Linked DNA regions of Homo sapiens: region 2 is linked to region 1. Evidence: fine-mapped expression QTL. A gene starts in region 1. The other region holds a variant in brackets. All regions are shown on one strand. Distances are from middle to middle.

Region 1 (8,532 bases):
ACCTAGAGATGGCATCAGATCCCATAGATTGAGGCCTCGGTCCCCAAGACTGCCCCTGTCACCCCACATCAGTCACAAGTCTGGGCCTTCAGAACTTCTGACAAACTGGCTTCAAATTGGGGTTTGCATGACCCCTTCTTTGGGTTCAATTAATTTCCTGGAGCAGCTCACAGAACTCAGGGAAACACTTATGTTTACCAGTTTATTATAAAAGGATATTACAAAGGAAACAGATGAAGAGATGCACAGGGCGAGGTATGGGGAAAAGGGTGTGGAGCTTCCATGCCTTCCTGGGGCACACCATCCTCCAGGAACTTCCAGTCCTCTTGGTTTTGTTTTGTTTTGTTTTGTTTTTGAGATGGAGTCTGGCTCTGTAGCCCAGACGGGAGTGCAGTGGTGCGATTTGGCTCACTGCAACCTCCGCCTCTTGGGTTCAAGCTATTCTCCTGCCTTAGCCTCCTGAGTAGCTGGGACTACAGGTGCACACCACCACACCCAGCTAAGTTTTGTATTTTTAGTGGAGATGGGGTTTCACCATGTTGGCCAGCCTGGCCTTGAACTCCTGACCTCAGGTGATCTGCCCACCTTGGCCTCCCAAAGTGCTGAGATGACAGGTGTGAGCCACCACGCCAGCCCTCTTGAGTTTTTTTGTTTGTTTGTTTGTTTGTTTTTGAGACAGAGTTTCACTCTTGTTGCCCAGGCTGGAGTGCAATGCTTGGTCTTGAACTCCTGACCTCAGGTGATCCACCCGCCTCGGCCTCCCAAAGTGCTGGGATTACAGGTGTGAGCCACCATGCCAAGCCTGCCCTCTTGGGTTTTTATGGAAGCTTCATGATGTCACCATTGCTTTCCTCAGGATATGGGGTGGGTCCCTCTCAGGGGAGGGTCCTAAGACCCACAGTCAGAAAGGAGGGGGAAAGATTAGAGTACTGCCTTGGGGCAGGTGAAAGGAGAGCAGAAGCAGGTTAGAGAGGTTCTGTTTCTTGAGGTCTGTTCCTGAGGCCTAACATACCCAACACTGTAACAAAATACTGTAACAAGGGCTATGGGTGTTGGGAGCTAGGAACTGTAGACAAAAATTAATATATATCATAACACACACATCGCCCCTCAAATTTCAAGGGAGGCTAGGACGTGGAGATTTTAGCTTTCACTGCTTTCGTAGGAGATAACAATGTAAAAGAAGTGAGTTGGAAATGATATCAGCCAAACTGTAGTGTTTGCCACAATTGTGGACAGACTAAATCCCTTTCCAATCTCTCTCTGGTAGTCAGAAGTGATTGATTTCATTATGTTCTCGATATTTCATTATCATGCTCCTTCCCTAATTTCACATAGCATACCATTTGTTTAAAAATTAAATACCCACTCTGTAGGCTGCATTAGAACAAGGATAGTAATCACGATGATATTGATTTGTTCATTAAATCCCACAATTACTGTTTGATTATTGAGTATCTGTCTACATTGCCAAGCACTGAGATACAATGTTCACTGATGTATATTTCCTCTCATTGAAAATGTCTTATCTATACCATGCTTTATCAATTAGGAATGCTTTTAGCTACTAAAAGGAGAAAATTCAACTCATAGTGATTTAAACCATATTAAAAATCTATAATTTACTTTTTAAATAATTCAAATGGAGGTGAGAAGCTCTACAATGTTAGATCACTGGGAGTATGTCTCTGTGACCCCCCACCTGGTTACAAGAAGGCTGCTAGAGCTCTAAACACCTTCAAGAATGTGCCCGAAGACAGTCATGATGGTGAGAGAACTATTCTCTCACGTCTCCTTATTTTATCAGAGAATACAATCTTCCCCAGAGGCCTCCTTAGCAAACTCATTGGCTACAGCAGGATCAAGTGGCCATTACTTGCTTTAAGGGATGCTAGAAGAGTATCTGGTGAGAAGGGAGAGGGGATTGTGAATTAATACTGGGTAGCCAACCAAGAGTGTTGTCATAAACACTTTATAGCTTTCCATATACTGTCGCATTCATGATCTCATCTTGTGACTCAATGAGACTACTATCCAAACATACTGGAAACCCAAACCTGGAATAGGTGTTATAAGTGGCATCTGCTATGTGGGAACTTCTGGCTGTGAAGTAATTTAATGGTCCTTTAAAGGTACAAATTTAATGCAAAGGGGCTTAAATAAATTATAATGCATTTTGCTTACAAAGTGTGCATGGAAGAACATAAGGAGTAATTCAGAAGATATTATAGTTTAGTAAGATAATTAGAAAGAGAAATCAAGATATGTGGATTATAGCCTCAGCTTTGGGTAAGACACTGGAAGAATTTCGAGCCTCTGTTTTGTCAGCTGTAAAATTACATACTTGAACAAGATTAGATGATCTCTAAATTCCTTCTCAAAGATAAGAGGACCCATATAACCATGATGCTGGAAGTTGTGAGCTTAAAAAAAATTAAAATAACCTATTTCAATCTCTTTTTAACAATGAGATAACTTAGGGCTTGGGAAGATCACCATTTGTCTGAATTCACTTATTTAAGTTAGAAATTTGAGTCCCAGTATTATACTTTCACAAATAATTGATATTGCATCCTGAAAGATTTTTAAAAATTTGGCCTCTTCTGTCATTTTTTTTTTCATTTTAGGCAGAATCTCTGTGATAGCATTTACTCTGCTTAAGAGAGTGCAAATAATGAGATTTTTTTAAAAGTCATTTTTTAGCTGTAAATTTTTGGGCAAATTACTTCTTATCCTTGCGGTAAAATAATAATTATTCCTTCTTCATAATTTTTCTTTTCTTTTTTGAGGACTGGATAAGTAATCTATTAAGGGACCTTAATGTACTAACACACAGCAAGGAGTCAATCTGTAGTAACCATGATTATCATTAATATGTCTCCAGCCAGCACTTGCGCTTAAGCTTTCTCACACTTAAGAAAGTGTTTGAGAGCAATTTCCCCTGCAGGTTGTACGGAGGTGACTCCGATTCTCACTATTATTCTTTTGTCTTTTATGATCATATCTTCCACCATCATATTATATAGGTATGAAGGCTCTGTGTAATAACTAAGGGTGTGGTACCTAACTGGAAGTCAGACCAATCATTCTTATGCTGTCACTGAAACCAGTAACCGGTGATTTGTAAGAGAAGAGTTAAAACAACTTAAACTCAACAACAACACCAAAAACAAAAACACTTAAATTGGGGATTCTGAATATGGGATTCATGGATGGGCTTTAAGGGAATGGGAAACCACCTGATATTTCATTCAAATGATTGACATTTTGGCCCAGGTAATTTTGGGGACTGTCCTGTGCACTGTATTTAGCAGAATCTCGGGTCTTTACCAACTAGATGCCAGTAATACTCCCCATTCATGGGTTATGATAATCAAAATTATCTTCAGACCTTGCCAAATATCCCTTTCCTTCTTCAGAATCGCTGTGGTAAAGCTTTATATGTCCGCGCATTTTTTTTTCTGGAAGGCTTATCAGTTTCATCGTATTTTTTAAAAGACCTGTGACCTCAAAAGGCTTGGAATCAATCACTTAAGGTCTTTCAAAATAATAATAAAAGAACACATATCTCCAGCTGTCGTTGTGGGAAAAATGTACACCATCACGGCTAATTAAAATGGTGCAGTCTGAAAATCTGCTATGAAATATATACCTACCAATTTATTACTTTCAACTCCTCTAAAAAGACACCTCACAAAAACTATATCTGGGAAACTGTCTACTTCAAAAACTGCTGTTCCCAGATGGCATACTTCTTAAAATACTGTGTTCAGCAGAGACTCCCACAGTCATCTACTGAATCTAGCTCTAAACTTCTAAAGGGGTTAGTGCTAATGACAAGTGGAAAAAGTCCTCAAGTCCAGAGGGGAACTAAAAATCAGTTGTTTCTCAGAAAAGAAATCAAACGATGGAATAAATTGCAAAATTGATCAGGAGGCAGGATGGAGGAGAAGGGAGGGAGGAAGTGAAGGGAAAGGGAGGGAGGGAGGGAGAGAGAGACAGAGAAACAGCAAGAGAGAGAGAGAGAGACCTTTGAAAGAGTGTATCTCTTGGGAGAGGCTCGCTAGAGGTCCGCCCCTGCCTTCTCCCTGGCTCGTCTGGAAAGGCAGCTGCCCCCATGCCATACATGAGCCTTGGGCTGTCTGCTGTGCTTTAATTCCCACGTCCACAACCGCCTCATTCACCGCCTTCCAAAGTGACCACTTCTCAAAAGCCTCCTCAAATCTCAAAGGGGCCACTTTACCCACTCTTTAAGGCCCTCTTTCCCGTCTACGGCTTCTTTTAACGGCGGCAGGAAAACAGGAGCATAAACCCGAACAGTAAACCCAGAAAAGCCCCAACAGGCAAAGTGTGTCATCTTCCGTGGCTCCTCGGGGTCACCCAGGAAGACAAGCAACTTTCTCCCATACTTCTCGGTCTGTCTGCCTTCCCCACTCAGCTTTGAATGAGACGCAGGGAGAGGGGGCGCGAGGGGGCTCGGGGCTAGGGGAGGAGCCGCGAAAGCTGCCCCCGGGGGTGGGCCTGGACCCGCGCGGACAGCGGGGCACCCCCCCACTCCCTTCCCGGCGCTCCAGGAACGTCCCCGGTGCGTCCTGGGTCTGTCTGCGCGGAGTTCCCCGGGGCGCGAGGGGAGGGGACTGGAGAAAGAGGAGGGCCGGGCAGCGGAGGGGAGGAGGCGGTGCGTGCCTCGCCTGCCAAAGGGAGATCCGCTCCTCTGCGTGCGATCCCCGGCGCCCGCGCGCGCCCACAGCGCTCCGCCAGAGCTGCCGCCGCGGACTCGCCGGGAGTGGGGGTCTCCGCTGGTGCCAGCCCGCTTCTGGAGACCCTCCGCCTCCTGCCAACCCCTGCTCTTCCAGGTCGGGCCCCGGGGTTCTGCGGCTGTTAGGGACAGAGGCAAAGAAGGGCAGGACGGTCCGGTTTCCCGTGGATGTTCCCGCCCGAGAAAGACAGCAAGTTGTGTGTGCGCCCGGGACGCGGGAGGGAAGGTGGCCGCCGCCCGCCAGCCATGTAAGTAAATCACTCGGCTGCCCCGTGGGCGTGGGCTCCGCTGCTTTCTCCCGGGCTCCCTCTCTGCCCCGGAGCCGGAGTTGGGCTGCTCCCGGGCTCCGGACTTCCTGAGCTCGGCGGATCCGTCGGCTCTGCCTGCCAGCCGCGTCCGCTCTTGGCGTCTGCCTCCGGGGGGTGCTGCCTTCCCATCCTTATCCCCTCCCTTCGTCCAGAGCCGGCTGGAAAATGCCTCTTGCCCCCTTTTAGAATGGAGGGATCATTGTGTGTCTCCATGGGTGGAGTGGCTCGGTGAGGCAATGGCAGGGGGCTAAATATGGGCTTGTCTTGGCGAGGGCGCCTCACCGCAGTTGGAGATGGGGGCCCCCTGCCCGCAGGCCACCCCCTGCTGGTCTTCCCCAGCCTCGTGGCCCAGATAGATCAACTTCAGCCCTGACTGCAGTTGACAAGATTAGAAAAAAAAGTAGTAGCCGACCTCCCGTTTGAGTGACATCCAGAACTGAAAATGGGCGGTGGTTAGAGAAAAAAACGGGTAGGGGCGAGGTGAAGAAAGGGGGAAATTTGCTATGGACCCTGAAAGCTGGAGTTAGGGGTCCTGGGGGTGGAATTCTAGGGTGGATGGGCTCTGTGCTTCTGTATTCATTTCTTTATGGAAAGTGTGAGAAATGGTTAAGGAACTCTTTTTGAAAGGCTGGGGTGGAAGTAGATGCCCCTGGAACCATTTGGATGACTGGGGTTTGATGTAGCATACTGGGAAGTATGGATTGCTGTTCAAATTAGACAATCATTCAGTGGGAGAAATGATTGCAATAGAACTGTTGGAATCAATGAATCAAAACTGCAGACTCAAAATAAGTCATACACAGGCATTCTTTTACACTAGAAGATGTTAAGACTAAAGAAATTCTGAAATGCTGCTGAATGAGTACAAAGAGTGTCTGGTAATAGTTCTGTACTGTGGGTGCCTCCGCAGACCATAATGCTTGTTAAATTTATGGTACTCTGCAATTGTGAAAAATTATCCTAATTAGTTTGTTTGGCTCATGCAGAGAGTTAATGCACCCTTAAAGGGACATAGAAAAGTTGCAACAAACTATGAGCATGAACTTGCAAGCCAAAAAATGGAAATCATGGCATGGTTCATTTTATTTTAATTGTTTATTGCCCAGTGAAAGTGCTACATTACTTTTAATGTGAGTATATAATATATAGAATGAATTCATTGGCCTGTCAAATAAAAATCGGGCGTTTCTTTAAGTAAATAGCTGTCAGAGTTAATTTGGAAATATTTACGGAAGATAAAGACATGAAAAAGCTTTGAGCTGGTTTGACAAAAATCGAGTTATGAAGCTCATAGAGAGAATTAGTTCTTCCCACTTTTAAAGTGTTGAGGCAAGTCTCAATGTTTATTAATTGAAAATTGTAGACTAGCTGAAACAGTGTTATCACTTCTTTTAATGCCTTTAATTTTTAATGTTTCCTGTTGTTTTACCAGGGACCATCATCTTTAGTGCAGAGGATGGAAAGTTGATGCCCAGTAAGACTGAAGATCCATTCTGCATTACGGAACTGTGGATTATCTGTGGGTCCCTGGTGATTTCACACCTTCATTCACTCCTGCAGTCCCTGAACACTTACTTGGGGTCCTCATTGCCCTATCTGGTGAAAGATGGCATCCAGCCTGACTTGTACTGGAGTAATCTGGGCTTTGCTGTCTTTTCTTTGTGCTGCCACCTCCTGCGTGGGGTTCTTTATGCCTTACTGGCTCTGGGGATCACAGCTGGGCAAGCCTGTGTCCTTCGGTACCTTCCGGAGGTGCTCATATCCTGTGCATGATGAGAGTCGGCAGATGATGGTGATGGTGGAGGAATGTGGGCGCTATGCCTCCTTCCAGGGCATCCCCAGCGCAGAATGGAGGATCTGCACCATAGTGACCGGCCTGGGTTGTGGCCTCCTCCTCCTGGTGGCGCTCACTGCCCTCATGGGTTGCTGTGTTTCCGACCTCATCTCCAGGACAGTGGGAAGAGTGGCTGGAGGAATTCAGTTTCTTGGGGGTAAGTGACTTGCTGAGCTTGAGTTGTTTACTGGAATCCCAAAGCAGTATTAAAAGTTATGTTTCAGTTGTCTACTGAGATTATTATAAATGACACCTGGAATGCATAAGAGAAATAGATTTGGAATGGCTTTGATGATAGGTTGCCAAAGTCAAGATTATTGTCAGAATTGCTGCTTTACAACTTCAAGAGTTCTTAATTTCTGTACATATACATCACTGGCCTGCTAAGTGCCACCTATGTGAAACAGTAACATCTAGGTTGTTTGAGGTGTAGTAGGGGCGACAGTTTGGATTTTATAGCTTCTTGTTCGTTATGTTAAACAATAGACAATTAGATTATCTTTGTCTTCATGGAATCCTCGGGTCTTTAAAGGTAAAGATTTCACAGAAAAGTGGAAAAGGTTTTTGATTCAACATTGTTATCATGAACCTCTAATACACTTTGGTGGATGCAAAATTTACTCTTGCCCAATCTTAAACTCTATTTCTAAATAAATGTTAACTATTTTAAATGAGAGATCAGTTTTATATAACAACTATGAACTTAACTATTCTACAGAGATAGCTATCCACTTAATTACCTTGTTAGGTCTTAACTTTCCTGGGTGCTCTTGCTGTGGAAAAAAAGAAAAGGGATATTTAGCAAATGATGTGTGCTTGTCCCAGATGGACTGGATAGTTTCACTAACGCCAGAAAAGGTTTGATTTTTACTTGGATTCCCTCCAGCAAGTATTGCTTCAATATCTTTGGTCATATGGTTTTAATTGTACTTTATGTATTTTCCACTGTGCTTTTCACCTCCATTCTTCAACCTGACTGGCTGAACTTGTCTGATTTACAGTCCACCCTGGTGAAATATGACAACCTCCATAGATAGTGCAGAGTGAAGGGAAATAGGAAGCCTGGAAAACTTATACAATGTATTTGGAACTTCATTACAAAGTAAAGGTCTGTTACTCCCTCATTTGGTGTTTTCTTACAGTCTTTTGTGAAGAATCCAGAAGAAGAAAAATGAATTAAAAATGAGTAGTTGTGAGACAGTCTCCCCATATTAGAGAACCCCAATGGATTATTTCAGAGTATTTAATATAAAACTTTCAAGTAACATTTTCAGTAAAGTTTAATTCTTGTGCTGAAAATGCAAGTGGCAAAGTTTTGTGTTTTGAAATGAGATAGAAAGTTTTGTTTTAAAGTGAGATAGAATTGTCCATTCTTTCCTTACTGATGTAACTTTGTTCTCATTTGGGTTTTTTCCCATTGGGTTTGCACCTTAGTCCCTCCCGGGAGGCAGTGTGGGGGACCTACCTGTCATCTCTTTACAGCTTCAATGTTTAACACTGACAAAAGTCTTGCATGTGATATGTATATTTACACAGGTATGTACTTAAAACTATTAGGAAACCTAAAGAAGTTGTCATTGAAAGTGGAAATGTAAATTCAGAGTTTGAAAACTTACAAATTTTAAGAATAG
Region 2 (8,000 bases), 190 kb after region 1:
GACATTTATTGGTTATAAAGCTTTTCACTTTTTGTTTCCTTACTTATCCAGAGAAGAGGATGGGAATACCAAATATGTTTTGAAACCATTTCATCCAAAGCTGGCTGGAAATGTTTCTCTTTTTCTTTGTTCAATGATAGGTAAAACACTGTAACTTTAGAGCACTGTGATCACATTAGTGACATCAGCTTAAACTTAGGGACTAGGGAGAGATGAAGGAATTGTAGTTGTATTTCACAAGAAGTCCAGAGTAGAGAAACAACTCATTATTTGCCATTTTTTTCACATCTAAAAGTGTTCTCTTTCATAAGCAAGATTGGGGTCAGGACAAAAGGGAGTGCAGCCTGTTCTGGGTTTTGTTGAAGCTGTCTCCAGAAGCTAAGTAGATGGACTGGTACAGCCCACATTTGAAATGTAGACTGATTCACCTACTTACTAATTGGGAAGCTAAATCCATGCCCTAACCATTTCTTAAAAAATAAATATTATAAAATAAAATAAGGAAAACATTACTGAAACGTTTAAGGAAGGTGAATCTGTGGAATCTGTATTCTGATCATTGGGCAGCAATATTTGTGTATCACTAAACATTACACCCATTTCCCACCTTTATCTCCCAGGCAGCTCAGGATGAATGGGATTCTTTACATGCTGTAAAGTCGGCAAGGCTGTTTGGTCACAGCAGAAATTTCATGTTAATGCCAAAGATTACTAGAGTAGAAGATAGGAAAGGCAAAGCTGTTTAATTTTGTCAAAGATAAGACAATATTGTGAGGTTTCTGTGACTGAATCAGATATTGTATTTTATAAATGAAGAAAATGCACAACCGCTATTGGGAGCTTCAAGGAATTCTGCTTTAATGAGGGGCCTTGCCGATCTTTATCATTTAAAGTGGATGATAATCTTTAGGGGCTGCACACATTCAAGCTGACATTCTCTTCCACCCTACTTTTAATATGCAGCTTTTACTTCCCCCAGACGCTACTTGCATTGTTAGGAGATTTCTGGATAAAATGTACATAAGTCTGTTAAAAATAAGGGAGTAAGAGAAAAGTTAGACATGGCCAATTCCTTTTACTCAGATTTTAGTTATATGGCATTCTGGAAAAAAAAAAAAAAAAAAAGACCAAAAAAACTTTACCCTTTAAAAAAAAATCTTATTTTAGGAATCAGAGCATACTTCTAGGCAATCATTTCATTTTGAATCTATTATATTCCATTTGTTCTTTAAGTTCATTGAATATTTAAAAATCCCTGCAGCATTTTTTTCAAATCCCATGTAAAGAATTAGCAGCTAATTTGGCATACTACAGTATTCATAAGATAAAATATGTAAGTAAGATTGACCAGGACTTACTTGTTTATTTCATGCATTCATTTATTTTACCAGGACAGGGTGGGAGTGGGATGGTGGAGTGGGAAGAGTAGATGTGGGGTTTGTTTGGTTTTGTTTTAATTTGGGCTTATCTTAGAAGATGTGAAATGCCTTGTTTTGATGCAGATCTGTCTGTGGATTGGGTGCTAGGACACAAGACTAACACTCTTTCTCTCCCCACATAATGCTCTAAATCTTGCAACAATACTGACTCAATGACTTCAAATCCCATGCTCCTTTCTTCCTTTCTTTCGCTTTCTAAACATGTTTGTGTTATGAATCATACTCAGACACAGGGCCCATTTGATGGCTGGGGCTGGGTCTCCTTGTCACCACCCCAGTCAATTGGAATGCAGCCCACAAAGTCGCCCCTGCCCCGGCCCAGGAGCTCCGCCTGGCTGGGTGAGTTCATTGATGTGCTGAATATCACAAAGACTTAATTCTGTGCTGAAAGGTTAAAAAGAAGCGGGGAGGGGAAAGAAGAGAGGAATAAAGATGAGGTCCGTGGAGAATGGTTAATTCAGCTAATGAATTTTTGCAGAATGGCTAACAAGGAAGAATTTTGCTTAAGGAAAATTGGTCCTTGATGTGACTCCTTCCCTCCGTCTCTTTTGCCTTTTGAGCGGGTGGAAAGTTAGAGGAGCTGTTAGTTAAATGACAGAGGGAAATAGAAAGATGTATTTTCAAAAGGCAAAACAAAAACTACCACTTTGGCTTCCAATTCATGCTTTGAGGAATGTCAGCTTCTCACAGCGTTGCTCCGGCCGCCCCTGCCCCATTTAATATTATGCAGCTGGTGTGACCTAATTTAGCCTCTGGGGGCACCCAAGTCAGAGCAGTTGAGGGCTTCACACAGATTCTTCTGCAACATGTCTGTTAACCAACAGTGCCTTTGGGAAAAAGCTTGGGTAGTTAGTCTTTTTGGTAGAGTCCAGTCCTGTCCTGTTTCAAGAGGGATATGAATAAGGCAGGATGATTCCAAAGAAGAGAAAAGACACTGGACACTGGTAAGAAGTGTAATAAAAGCAACTTGGCCTATCCCACCTTTGTTTCTTCCTGGAGTTAAGAGGAGTCTCCCTACACCTTCGGGCTCTTCTAAACTTGGAATAACCTAAATGTATCGGCAGGCTAGAAGAAATCTGCAGATGACATTTTAAAACAAAAACATGTTCATGTTTAAGAAGAAAACCCTTATGTGATTGTACAAGATGTATTCATTATTCAAGTACCTGTGACAAATGTTCATATGCCTATGGTAGACAAGAAGATAAAAATAGGTGCTGGGACTAGCAGAACTCAGGTTTTAACAACTTTAGGAGGAAAATTTGATTTGCATGCCATTTACAAATTTTTTCTACCACCTCTGACATCAGAATTATAAATGTTTAAAAAACTGCACAATGACTTTATAACTTTCCTGTATTTGATTTATGTTCACACAAACTGTAAAAGAGAGAAAGCTAGCACTTTCTCTTTTCTCTTGCAATTACATACTGCATTCACACATTAAGTACATGAAACTGATACCACTGTTCTCCAGCTGCAGACTTTTGACTTTATTGCCCAAATATTCAGAGGTTGTATGGAAAAGGAGCTCAAGGTAGGGGAAGGGAAAAGGCATTTTATTCTCTACCTTTTTGTCCTTTAAACTGTATGATCAAAAGTATCATTGTGTGGCACCACAGTTGGGGAAAACATAGAGTAAATGAACTGGAGAATGAATTGGCCTAATATAATGGAGTTTCATGCCTCCTCTTTTTTTTTTTTAACATATTAAGGTTCATTCATTCAACAAACATGTGCTAAGCATCTGTAATATGTCTGGCATTGTTCTCAACCCTTGGGATACATTAATGAACAAAACAGATAAACATATCAGCCCTCCTTGGGTTTATATTCTAGGGCTTGATCATTGAGTCAATAGAACCTGATTCAAATTGTTCAGATTATTTTTCCCCACATAGTCTTACTACTCTTACTCTCATCAAAGACGTCAGTTCATATTAATTTTCTTTACCATTTCTGTTGCAATTTACATTTGCTCAGTACTCTAACTTCAGTCGTTACCCAAGGAGACTGCATAATCTCATTTCTTGGACATTTCTTCATTTCACATCCATTCTGTCATTATACACTTGCTATGGACAGAGAATCTAGGGGTGATGTCTGAAGGACCTTTCTAGTCCTGATTCTGCAAATATCTAAGCATCAAATGTCTACTCAAGGTAGGTAAGTATTGTTTTCTTTCTTTCTTCGTAATGTATTGAACAAAGTTCAAGGAGGCAAACTGGCTGCAAATGAGAAAGGCTTGAAAAGTGTCAAGGTTTAGACTTCTCACTTTGAATTCAGCACTGAGACTATGAAGCTTTGCTGCTTGTTGTATTTATTCTCCCATTCATTTATGCATTTATTAATCCTTCATCCAGTACACCTTCGGTTACTGCAAAACTATGAGCCAGACACTGCCCCAGCTGCCAAGGGGAGCAAAGATATGCCAGAAAGCCACTGCCCCCTGGAGTTCAGTCTGGTGGGGCACCGGGATGCTTCTTTGCAAGCACAGTTCTTAATTTCAATTCATGAAGGACTTAAGTGTTTCTTCAGCTTGCTTTTGTTTTTTGTTTTTTTTTTTTTCAGTATTTTTATGGCAAGCTGTCTTTGCCAGCAGAGGAATACACTATTAACATGTTGAACACAGACCTGAGTTCTTCCACATGTGCGTATGCATACACATGCATGTGCATACACATGCACAAAAATTTGTTTTTCCTCAACTTTGCTGAACTACTTTTCCTTCAGTTATCGGCTGAGGCAATATAGTAGTATGCAAGCTTTTCAGAAATCCAACGGGATTCATGCCCAGCTGAGTTATTTCACTCTGCGTTCTGTGTCAGTTCCTGGAAATTAACAATAGAGCATTTCACTTTGGTCTTTGATCCCACCAGCTCAGTCATGGTATTTTTCCAGATGTTTCCGTCTTAGGTTGCTATTACAAAAAAGCACAGCACAAGTTAAACTAGGACAAGTTGGCCTGTCCTGGGGTCTGAGGAATGTGTTTTCCACCAAATAAACTGGTCATGTGCCACAGACGGGTTAGAAAGGGAAACTCAGACTTTATAATCAGAGTGATCCTTTTCATTGTGTGTTTAGGAAAAAGTACCATGTCCACCCCCAGTAATTTGACTCAAGACCCTGTAGCTTCTCAAAGACATTGATTTGGCCTGGTTCTAGTAAAAATGATTTGTGTTTTGAAATAAGTTACCATGCTATTTTCTCTCAGGTTAATTTACCCTAGCCTGTATAATACTCTTAGGGGTCTAAATGCCAACAGGCATAGGAAAAAACCTCAGTTGCCAGTAATTATATCATTTAGGTGGTTGGGCAGAGATAAGACAAATAATTGGTGTTATCATGCCTTCTATCCAAGTTTTGTAAGCAAGAATTTCATAGCATGTTTTAACACAAATGGCAAAAAAAATAAGCCCACAGCAGCTTGAAGCATTATATGTGAAATTTACTAAACTAGAAATAAGAAGAAGAAGTGAAAACAGTACCCCA[A/G]GAAAGTCCCAGAAGACTGATAACACCAAATGCAGGGGCCCTTGCTCTACCTCAACTCCAGCCCAAATCCACCATGAAGACTCCCTCAGTTGTCCTGAAACACATGCCCTGAAGCATAATGTGGTATTATAAAATAAATTTCCTGAAAAATGACAAGATAAGCTTCTAATGAACTGTGGCTAAAATCTGATACTGGAAAGAGGAAGATGGAAGATGGAATTAGGAAGATGTTGTGTGAATGTTGACACATATTCTCACAGCTAATGCTTATTTTATTAAGCATTTCTCATTTGGTTTGTGCTACTACTAACTCATAACATTATTTATTGAGCTTGATTTCCAAATAGGTAATATCTTTCTAAATGCTTTTATACCCTGTGATCTGGCAATTTCACCCCTCCATATAGTCCATACAAAAATGTATAGATATGTGAATGAAACGGCATATGAGAATGTTCCCAGAATTATTTTTTTGAGCAATCAAACACTGGAAATTGTCCAAATGCCTATGAACAGTAGAGTGGATAAATTGTGGTATATTCACATAATGAAATGCTATGCAGCAATGAAAATAAACCAATTCTAATTATACTCATCACTATGGATGAGTCTCGTAAACATAAATTTGAGTCAAAGAAGCCATAGCAAAAGAGTCCATAATTTATGATTCCATTTATTTAAGTACAAAGAGAGGCAAAACCAATCTATTTTGTCAGGAGGTAGGATAACCCTTGGGAAGGGGTGGTGATTAAAAAGGAATAGAAGGAAGGCTACTGGGGTGCTGGTTGATTCTTTTTAATGTTTGTAAAGTTTACATGGTGTCTTCAGCTTATGAAAATTCCTTGAGCTCTGACCTTATATGTACACTTGTCAATATGCATGTTAGAGTTTAATACACTTGTGCAAATGCAAACATATGTTCACTTATTAAAGACAGCAACACAACAGAAAAATTCATTTAAAACTTACTTAAAGAAAAAAAAAAAAAAAACTAGTCGGTTGTGATGACACACGCCTGTAGTCCCAGATACACAGGAGGTTGAGGCAGGAGGATCTCTTGAGCAGAGAGGTTGAGGCCAGCCTGGGCAACATAGTGAGACCCACCCCCCCTACCCCCAATTCCTAAAAAAAAAAAAAAAAAATCCTGAGTAGTTTCGGGTTTGACATTTAAATAAGAACATAATTTACGAATATTTTAATCTTATTTTCCTACTTTAAAGATTAGGATATTTTCCTGAGTACATATCAATGTGGATACATTTCATAGTTATTATTTGACCACAGGCTCTGAAGAATTGGCATAAAATATTGCATAATACAAGTATGTTAAATTGGATTAAAATGAATAACAAATGCTATTTTTCCTTCGTTAAATATTCCAGATTTCTTTGATTAGATATCATCTCTCCCTCTTTTGAAAGTCCACAATATGTTGTATTTCACTTAGCGATGCATATATTGTACTACTTTGTATTATGTCTAATTTTATAAACTCCTTGGGGTAGAGTTAGGGCTCGTTCATCTTTGAATCTACTGTGATATCTGCAGAAGGCAGGTGTAATATAGTGAAGATGTTAAGAGAGTGCCTACTGGTGCTAGACATGGGTTCAGGTTCCCTTGCTGCCATTTACAATTTTTTTCTTTTTTTTTTTTTGAGACGGGAGTATTGCTCTGTTGACCAGGCTGGAGTGCAATGGTGCAATCTCGGCTCACTGCAACCTCCGCCTCCCGGGTTCGAGCAGTTCTCTGCCTCAGCCTCCCGAGTAGCTGGGATTACAGGAGCCCGCCACCACACCTGGCTAATTTTTTAATTTTTAGTAGGGACAGGGTTTCACAATCTTGGCCAGGCTGGTCTTGAATTCCTGACCTCGTGATCCACCCGCCTTGGCCTCCCAAAGTGCTGGGATTACAGGCGTGAGCCACTGCACCTGGCCTACAATTTGTATAAATTTGGGGAAGTAGTCTCTCTGTACTTCAGTTTCTTCTTTATAAAATGGGAACAATTGTGGCATCTGCCTCTTAATGTTGTGAAATTAATCAATCGCCAGAAAGCTCTGAGGACAGTTCCCAAAACATAGTTAGTTCTCAAGAATTGCTAGCTGCTATTTTTAGGCATGGTAGTATAATTAAGATTCCTGCTGTGATTCCTGAATGAGAAAAAGAAAAGAAAAAAATTAGAAAGACTTAGAAGTAGTGGTCAGTCAAAAGTCATATGTAAAAATCTAAAATTGCTTGGTAAAATTTCTGTCTGCTAATTCCCCAATACAATTTTTTTCTCAAATGTTCTTCAAATAAAGTGCACTGATCATTTATAGTTGAATATTTTCAAAGTGTTCTAAATCAGTCTGGTCATAAACAATTACTAGATTATTTCTTGTAAGTATCGATAGTCTCCTGATTCAGTTAGGTAGGTGGGACCATGGTAATAAATAGACCTAAAAATGTATAACGGTTGAAACACGGTAAAAGTTTATTTCTAGCTCACATTACAGCCCAAGTAGATATTACCAGTCAGCTTCCATATGATGATTCAAGAATCCAGGTTCTATTGATAGGTATACCATCCCCTAAGTCTCTTCTAATACTTATGTCCCACAGAAGTGAAAGAGAGTATGGGAAGCTGTATCCATCTACTTCTTAAAAGCCATGATGAGAAACAGCACACATCACTTACTCCCATATTCCTTAGCTAGATTTCACTTAATGGCCACATCCCACTGAAGAGACACTGGGAAATACAGTTTAAGTATGTGCCTCAGAAGGAGAAATTGAATTTTGTAAATAGCTGGCAGTGCTTGTCATTATTTAGAGGTAGGCAAGGGCTATAGTTCTACTTCCCGACAATTCCATTGCAAATACAGAAGCATACTCATAACATTCCCACACAGATATGTCATAGCAATCAGGCCCCAGTAATCATAGCGCCTTTTCTGAAGCTCATGAAAGTCCCAGGTCTCTGTCCCTGTAGGTGCTTCAATCACAGCTGATATGAAAGGGTCCTCGTGAGATAAACACAACACTATTATAAGGGCAGGACTTGGTTAAGCTTAGAGAAGGAATAAGGCAACC

What was found.
Region 2: its variant is fine-mapped to the expression of LHFPL6 in blood mononuclear cells (TOPMed, PIP above 0.99). The same link has a PIP of 0.9 or more in T cells, lymphoblastoid cells, monocytes and whole blood.

The regions. Positions count from the first base shown.
Region 1 is chr13:39,599,358-39,607,889 of GRCh38, reverse strand. LHFPL6 (LHFPL tetraspan subfamily member 6) reads left to right here and starts at 4,697. Exons shown (of 4, transcript NM_005780.3): 1 at 4,697-5,007; 2 at 6,500-7,058. The coding sequence starts at 6,674. It overlaps LOC112268119 (protein SPT2 homolog), which reads right to left and starts at 6,566. Exons shown (of 4, transcript XM_035861111.2): 1 at 6,497-6,566; 2 at 5,350-5,440; 3 at 4,248-5,246. The coding sequence starts at 6,566. RefSeq lists a silencer at 4,503-4,802.
Region 2 is chr13:39,411,508-39,419,507 of GRCh38, reverse strand. The region is part of intron 2 of LHFPL6 (LHFPL tetraspan subfamily member 6); the gene reads left to right. Among named protein-coding and RNA genes, the nearest start is that of LHFPL6, 190 kb to the left of the region's middle. RefSeq lists an enhancer at 1,523-2,465. The variant A/G (reference allele first, on the strand shown) is at 4,932.